Linked DNA regions of Homo sapiens: region 1 is linked to region 2. A link means that fine-mapping ties the variant in region 2 to the expression of a gene that starts in the linked region. Tissue or cell type: prefrontal cortex. Region 2 holds a variant in brackets; the other region holds the start of a gene. All regions are shown on one strand. Distances are between the middles of the regions.

Evidence for each region. PIP is the estimated chance that this variant, and not a neighbour inherited with it, causes the effect.
Region 1: DNAH5-AS1 starts here. The variant in region 2 is the best candidate, but not a certain one, in a credible set for the expression of DNAH5-AS1 in prefrontal cortex (BrainSeq, PIP 0.81).

What each region holds. Positions count from the first base shown.
Region 1 is chr5:13,858,858-13,862,857 of GRCh38, reverse strand. DNAH5-AS1 (DNAH5 antisense RNA 1) reads right to left here and starts at 2,419. Exons shown (of 3, transcript NR_199035.1): 1 at 2,303-2,419. It overlaps DNAH5 (dynein axonemal heavy chain 5), which reads left to right. Exons shown (of 79, transcript NM_001369.3): 29 at 111-310; 30 at 3,253-3,406. RefSeq lists an enhancer at 2,792-3,991.
Region 2 is chr5:13,882,712-13,886,711 of GRCh38, reverse strand. It overlaps DNAH5 (dynein axonemal heavy chain 5), which reads left to right. Exons shown (of 79, transcript NM_001369.3): 18 at 583-748; 19 at 1,484-1,723; 20 at 3,618-3,808; 21 at 3,897-3,984. The region is part of intron 1 of DNAH5-AS1 (DNAH5 antisense RNA 1); the gene reads right to left. Among named protein-coding and RNA genes, the nearest start is that of DNAH5-AS1, 24 kb to the right of the region's middle. The variant G/A (reference allele first, on the strand shown) is at 2,110.

The sequences.
Region 1 (4,000 bases), 24 kb after region 2:
ATATTTATATATATATGAAGCAAATAGTGAAGATGGGGTATTGCACGTAGACTATTAAGGAAGGACGTGTGACTTTCATGCAATAACATGAGAGCTTGCCATTTTGATAGGACATCTGTATCAGTGCGGTGAAAGAGAGAGACATTGAGCAAAAGCTGAAGCAAGTGATTAATGAATGGGACAATAAAACATTCACCTTCGGCAGCTTTAAAACCCGTGGAGAGCTCCTCTTGAGAGGAGACAGTACCTCGGAAATCATCGCCAACATGGAGGACAGCTTGATGTTGCTGGGATCCCTACTGAGCAACAGGTGGGAAAACCATCTATCTTTTCCCTTAGATTTGAGAACCGTAATAGCAAACATTTAAAATTAATGAAAAATCCATTACAATAATAGCCTTCATATAGTTTACTCAATGTTGAAAATACTTGTTTTAATTACATTGATTAATTAATTTTTATATCCAAAACATATTTTTACTCAGGTACCCACTTATATATACATCATCAAGAGATTATATTTCAATTATTCTTGTTTTCATTTTGGCCTCAGGCACATGTTAGAGCATGTGTAACTCTGGTTTTATTTCATTATCCTCTATTTGTGGGGTATGTCTGAGACCATCCACTGGACAAAATAATGCAACGTATAATTAGCCACTCGGCTCTTGGGAACATTTCAGCTTGCTGCTGACAAGCCTGACTGCACAGCTCATAGCTCTACAGGCTGTAGAATCCAGGAGGAACATTATTTTGAATTTCAGAATAATCATTTTACTCGAAAAACCTTTTTTACCAATATCTGTGGACTAGAAACTCTTAGTTGTTTACATACTCTATTTTTTATATTTGTACAAATTTATGGGGTACATTTGAACTTGTTTTTTTTTTTTTTTTTTTTTTTTGAGATGGAATCTTGCTTTGTCACCCAGGCTGGAGTGCAATGGCGTGATCTCAGCTCACTGAAACCTCAGCCTCCCTGGCTCAAGTGATTCTGCCGCAGCTTCCTGAGTACTGGGATTACAGGCAACAGCCACCACGCCTGGCTAATTTTTGTATTTTTAGTAGAGACAGGGTTTCACCATGTTGGCCAGGCTGGTCTCAAACTCCTGGTCTCAGGTGATCTGCCCGCCTTGGCCTCCCAAAATGCTGGCATTACAGGCATGAGCCACTGTGCCTGTCCACATGTGAACTTTCATTACATGTATATAATGCATAGTGGCCACCCCTCACATTTTGGACATACAAACCACACAGTCATGAATTTACATTTCCTTGTTTCATTGCTTCCATTTGCTCTTTCTGAAATAATGTTTTTGTTCCCCAGAATCTTCTCAAATATATGGTAATTGTGCAGAAAGTGGATACCATTGAGATATGAATTTGTTGTTCTATTCTAGCTTTAAAATATCACCCAATTCTCCATATATATGTGTATCAATACTTTTAATGTTGGAAATACTGTGTACTTCATACTATTTCAAAAAAATTTCTCTTATTTCAGTTTACTTGTTACACTAAAGTAATATTGGGATATAAAGTTAGACCATTAGTAATCTTGAGTTTGGACTTCTCAGGATTTAGTGAGTTTTAATGAACTTGGTTACTATTCATACCAAACCAGAATAAAGGATAGACAGGCAATAATATACCCTAGGGAGATAGAAAAGACACTCATGTAAATTAAGTAAAAATTATCTGGTTGGGGTGGGGAAACTTTTCTTTTCAATGGCATCTAATCTACAGATAGAGTTATTGGGAGGAGTATTTTTTCAATATATATTTATTGAACCTTTACTATGTGTGTGATGTACTCTTCTAGGCGCTGTGGGTAGAACAACAAATAAGGGAAAGATCTCTGTTTCTATGGACCTATATTTCTAGTGAAGAGCATACAAATATTCAGAAAGATGCATGGAATATTAAAACAATTTGGTTAACAATTAAGAATATGGAAATTAAACTTTTATGCAATAATACGACTTCAAGTCCATATTATGTAGGGCTAGAGAGAACCATGAAGGGATAAGAAAGAGAAGAAGAGACACAAAGGTAGGCTGTATAATCATTTAGGATTAAGTTTGTCTGTAAATAACAGAAACACCACATACAAAATGGCTAATATAACACTGATGTTTATATTGCTCACGCATAAAAGAATTCCTAATGTAGGTGGTTCAGGTTGGAATGGGGGCTTTACCACATCATCAGGGACCCAAGCTTGGTCTGGCTCACTCATCTGTCTTTCCCAGGTGTGACCTTATTCCCCATACTACCCATTACATCCAATGCCACTACTCACATTTCATGTAGAAGAGTTGTTCTCAATCTTTGCAACGTACCAGATACACTGAAGGAACTTAAAAAAATCCCAATGCCAGGGCCACTTCCCAGACCCATTGAATCAGAGTCTCTGTACGTAGGACCCAGGCAGGCATCAGTAATTTTTAATGCTGGCGAGATGATTCCAGTGTTCAGCTATGAGATCATTCCAGTGTTCCGCTAAATTAAGCACTGTTGATGTGGAACTTAGTCTTCTGACTGCACATTACTGCAAAGGGAAGCTGGGAAATTCAGTAATTTAGCTGGGTAATTATGAGCCCACATGGAAAAGCAGAAGGAAAAAAGGACATTGGGAGGCCACCCACAGGCAGTCTGTCTCAAAGAGGAAAAGGGGAAGACAGATTAACTATGGAAGAGGCAGTAATCTTGCACACATGTACATCAAACATGAGTGGGTTGGACACAGGTGCGTGGGAAGTTAGAAAGAGACTCAGAAAAGGGGAGGCTAAGGAGAGAGTCCAGGTGTTATCATATTTGAAGATTGAATTAGTTGTCTGGTCCCCACTGATGGTTCTATAAAAGCTCCATATTATATGAAAAACCAGAGACTCCATGAAATAGGCACAGAAGCTCAGTAGGGCAAATATTATTCTCGTAGCCATAGCAGCACTGAGGGTAATTATATTACCCTGGAAGCTTGGTGGAATCAAGTCTAATGCCTGATCTACTCCTTAGATTATAAATCTCCCACCCTTCTCTATGCTCTGGATCAAAAGGGAAAAAGCTAGACTAACAATGAACAGTAAGTGGGGATGAATTAATCACTTGGTTGCATCACTTTAAAAGCCAGCAACATAATTAAGGTTGTAAAGAAAGCGGTTAAAAATTAAGATTTTTAAAAACCTTTTTAATTTGAAACAACAGCACAACAAAAACAAAACCAAACCCTAAACCTATTTCTTATTTTAGGTACAATATGCCATTCAAAGCCCAGATTCAAAAATGGGTGCAGTACCTTTCCAACTCAACAGACATCATCGAGAGCTGGATGACGGTGCAAAACCTGTGGATTTATTTAGAAGCTGTCTTTGTGGGAGGAGACATTGCCAAGCAGCTGCCCAAGGTTTTGTAATCTTCTTTATGATTTCATCAGATTTTTCAGAGAAAGCTCTCAGAGCGATTACCCCCTTAAATAATGCAATAATATTCCACTTCTATTGAACCCCCTTCCTTCAATCTTTTTGTTGTCACTGTTAATGCTGTTATTCTTCAAAGGGAGTGAGGAATTGTGGAAAGGAAAGGGGTGACAATCAGAGTAAGAATGCTGTAAAACTGTGGAGGTTTGATAGGAGATAGAGGGTTAAAAAAACAAAAAATAAGTGGTCGCATAATTGATATGCTTCTTTAGATAATTTCAAGGTAGAATTTGGAACAGTGTAGAATTATGGTGCAGTTATCTTGACAATGGTAGGCTAAGTTTTTCTACTACAGACATTTTAAAGTAATGCATACTATACAATGTACCCAATTATATCTGTACAGTAAAATTGAGGGGTGGAAATGTGCAGAAAAAATCTCCAAAACAAAAAGACCTTCTTTTCAAGATGTCAAGTATATATTTATCATCAAATCGTAATCATCTTACTGGGTATATATGGAGTATATTTTGAGATTTTTAAATGAACATTTTAACCAATTCTCAAGGATTCTTATTCAA
Region 2 (4,000 bases):
TGACAGTCTGTTGTTTCATGGGCTTACTTTCCAACCAGGTGGTAAATCACTGATTCTGTCTATATCATCCATCTATAACTATCTGTCTACCTAATCTCCTCCAGAATTGATCACCATGCCTCAAATCATGTTAGTTTATATTTATTAAATCCATTCTTGAGAAATGCACAATATAGTTAGAAGGGTGGGTAGTGTCTTTGAAATTAATGAGGGGATGACTATGGTTTGTTGGCAAAAACAAGGAGAGAAAGAAGGGTGGCTGGATCCGATTTATGTGATATGAAGGAAATGTGACGAGTAGAGAGGCTGCTGATGGCTTTTGAAGATATTTTCTCTACTGGTGGAGAAGTGCCTGTAATTTTGGTCCATCTACACTGATCCAGTGGGTTCTCTTGTCCTAAACACATTCCTTTAGAGGACACCTGGCCTGTGCTATTGTGAAGGATGTGGCCAAGCATCACTGGGGCTGAAATCTCACCTGGAGGCTGAGCCACAGCATTGCTACCACTGTTTCTGTGCTCTCAAAAGCTAGATAAACCATATACCACTGTGCTATCTTTTTTTTTTTTTTTTTTTGGTTAGGATCTTTGTGTAAATGGTGCACAAATACTACATTTTAAAAGCTCATTAGTGGAGGAGGCAGTCAATGAGCTTGTAAATATGTTGCTGGATGTGGAAGTTTTATCTGAAGAAGAAAGTGAAAAAATATCCAATGAGAATAGTGTTAATTACAAAAATGAAAGTTCAGGTAAGAGATGGGGTAATGAAAGGGTCTTGTTTTTCTATGACATTTACTAAAAACTAAAACTGCATTTTCTACATACCAATTAATTTCATACTTCTATAAACATCCTCTCGATTTTCTAATGATATGTATAAATCTGAAATTATGGCCCTGAGCATATTTTAGTGACTCTATGTTGTTAATTCCTACTATTTTTGGTTAAACTTTGCAAACATGCACTTTGCATTGGCCCTGGTTAGCTTTCTTTGCATTTATGTGTGGGTGGGTGTTTTATTTTACCTTATCAATAGAGTTGGATGGATTATTGACTGGAATTCCCCTTGGAGAGCCTCTAGACTGAGCGCACCTTTTGCAGGACAGAGGAGAACAGAGAGATGTGGATGTGAAGAAGGGAAATTATCCCCCCAAAGTTTTAGGGTTATTGGTGGGAGGTAGCACCAGAACCCAGGTCCTTGGGGGCCACTGTAGCTTTTCCAGCCATAGCTCCTGCCTCTCTTGTTGGCTGTTTTCTTGTATTGAGAAGGAGATGCTTCCATCAGTCCCTCTGGTTCCTGATTTCCTCCTACTTTTTGATGTCCTCACTTCCTAAGAAGTGTGATGTTTAAGTGATACTAAACTTGCATGTAATTTATCCTTTAATTGCAACAGATGATTCTATCTATCTGTCTATCTATCTGTCTATCTATCCATCCATCCATCTAACTTATCTCTATCTCTATCTCTTTCATCTTGTAACAGCAAAAAGAGAAGAAGGAAATTTTGACACCTTGACATCATCTATTAATGCCAGGGCCAATGCCCTGCTTTTGACGACAGTCACGAGGAAAAAGAAAGAAACTGAGATGTTAGGGGAAGAAGCCCGCGAGTTACTCTCTCATTTCAACCATCAGAACATGGATGCTCTTCTGAAAGTTACAAGGAATACACTAGAGGCCATTCGCAAACGTATTCATTCCTCTCACACAATTAACTTCCGGGGTAATAATCTTGTGTGGTTTGCTTAGTGGATGATCAGGCATAGTTGCTGGGGTATGTGTGTGTGTGTGTGTGTGCACGTGTGCACGTGCATGTACATTCCTGTTAAATTTAAATAATTAAAAATATTCATCTTTTTTTAAATTTTTATTTTTTGAGATGGAGTCTCGCCCTGTCGACCAGGTTGGAGGGTAGCGGCACGATCTCAGCTCACTGCAACCTTCATCTCCTGGGTTCAAGTGATTCTCCAGCTTAGCCTCCCAAGTAGCTGGGACTATAGGCGCACGCCGCCACGCCTGGCTAATTTTTTGTATTTTAGTAGAGACAGGGTTTCACTATGTTGGGCACGCTGGTGGCGAACTCCTGAGCTCAGGTGATCCGCCCGCCCC[G/A]GCCTCCCAAAGTGTTGGGATTACAGGCGTGAGCCACCGCACTTGGCCATATCCACCGTTTATTTAGTGCCTTCTCGTAATTTTAAACATTATGAACTTTGATCATCCCAACAATTCTATTAAGTAGATACTATTACTACTCTCATGTTAAATCAGAGAACTAGAGCACAGCACAGGGAGGTTAAATAGTTTGCTTAAGTTTTTGTTAATAACATGAAAATTGGTAGTACGTTTAATCTTTTTGTAATAAGATGAAAAAATATAAAATTATTTTAATTGGTGAAAGAAAAAAATACATACTTTAAAGGAAGTTATATGGAAACGATTCTTTCATTGTTAAATCATTAGGTTTGTTAGCCAGTCTTACAAAGTGGAAACATCTTACTAGTGTCACACTCTTCAAAGGATATATATGTATTTTACTATTTTTATGCTAATTTAGTACTTTCCAGGTGGTTTCCTCATTTTCAATAGCATCATCTTTTCCTCGGCACAGTTCAGAAATAGGTGTTGTATTTCTCAGGTGGGCCACAAAAATCTGTCAAATCTAGAGGCATCCTGAAATTAAATTTTAAGTTAAAAATGGTAAAAAGAAAACAAATAATAGTAATTAATGAAAACTGAAATAATAGGATAATAAAATTTTTAAATATATTTTGAATATTGACATTTAAAGGAAAGCATCTTCAATATTTAATTAAAAGTGGGTAAATAAAAGTGGAAACTCTGAAAGATTTTTTTTTTGTTTGGTGCCATGGCTTATTATGTTTTACTTCATTCAGGATGGAGAATAGTTCTTTTCTTTGGCACAGCGTTATTATTAGAACTTAATAAATGTTGGCTGATAGGCTAAATATTCAATCACAATTATTTCCCAGCTTTTCTATTACAGATATTTGCAACTACGTAAAGTTATGCATGATACACAGACACATATACATACATGTCTGTATCTACATACCTATACCTATGTTCAACCTTAAAAGCTCCTTCAGTATGAATGGCGAATTACACTTTATTTCTTTTCCATTTTTTTAACTGCTCCACATTTGGATTTTACACACCATGGTAGGAAAGGCCTATGATTTATCTGAAATTCCAAAGTGGTTATTTGTTCTAACTTTGGCTTATGCCGATAGTCTTGTTCTTCATTCCTGGCTTACTTAGCTACATTTAGCTAATTTGTTGGCATCTTGTTATTTGGAAGAATCATCTTTAATATTTTACAGAAGTGTTTATAATTTAGCCTGATCCCACACAGTGGGTTTCATTGTGGAGAGTATTCCAAGAAGCTGTAAACAGCAAAAAATGCCTTGGGTTCCCCTGAACTGCTTTGTTATATTGAGCAATACTAGATCCTCCATTAGTTTTAATTGACTCATTCATTCAACAAATATTTATTAGATTTTATACCTATTATGTATTGTTTTAATTTTTATGGTTACAAAGGAAGCAAATCTTATTTTGTATTAAAAATGTGAATTCTTCCTTGTTTTGGGTTAACTCAGACAGTAACAGTGCCTCTAACATGAAGCAGAACAGTTTGCCCATTTTCCGGGCAAGCGTCACTCTGGCCATTCCCAACATCGTCATGGCCCCTGCCCTGGAAGATGTACAGCAGACCCTGAACAAAGCCGTGGAGTGCATCATCAGTGTCCCTAAGGGGGTCAGACAGTGGAGCAGTGAACTGTTGTCCAAGGTGGGTATGGGGTGCAGAAATGGTTTCATATGGAAACCACTTCTTTTACAGATAGGACAGAACTGAAAAATATCCTTTTACATTGTAGAAAAAGATACAAGAAAGAAAAATGGCTGCTTTGCAGAGTAATGAAGACAGTGATTCTGATGTTGAAATGGGAGAAAATGAACTTCAAGGTAAATGTTCTTTTAG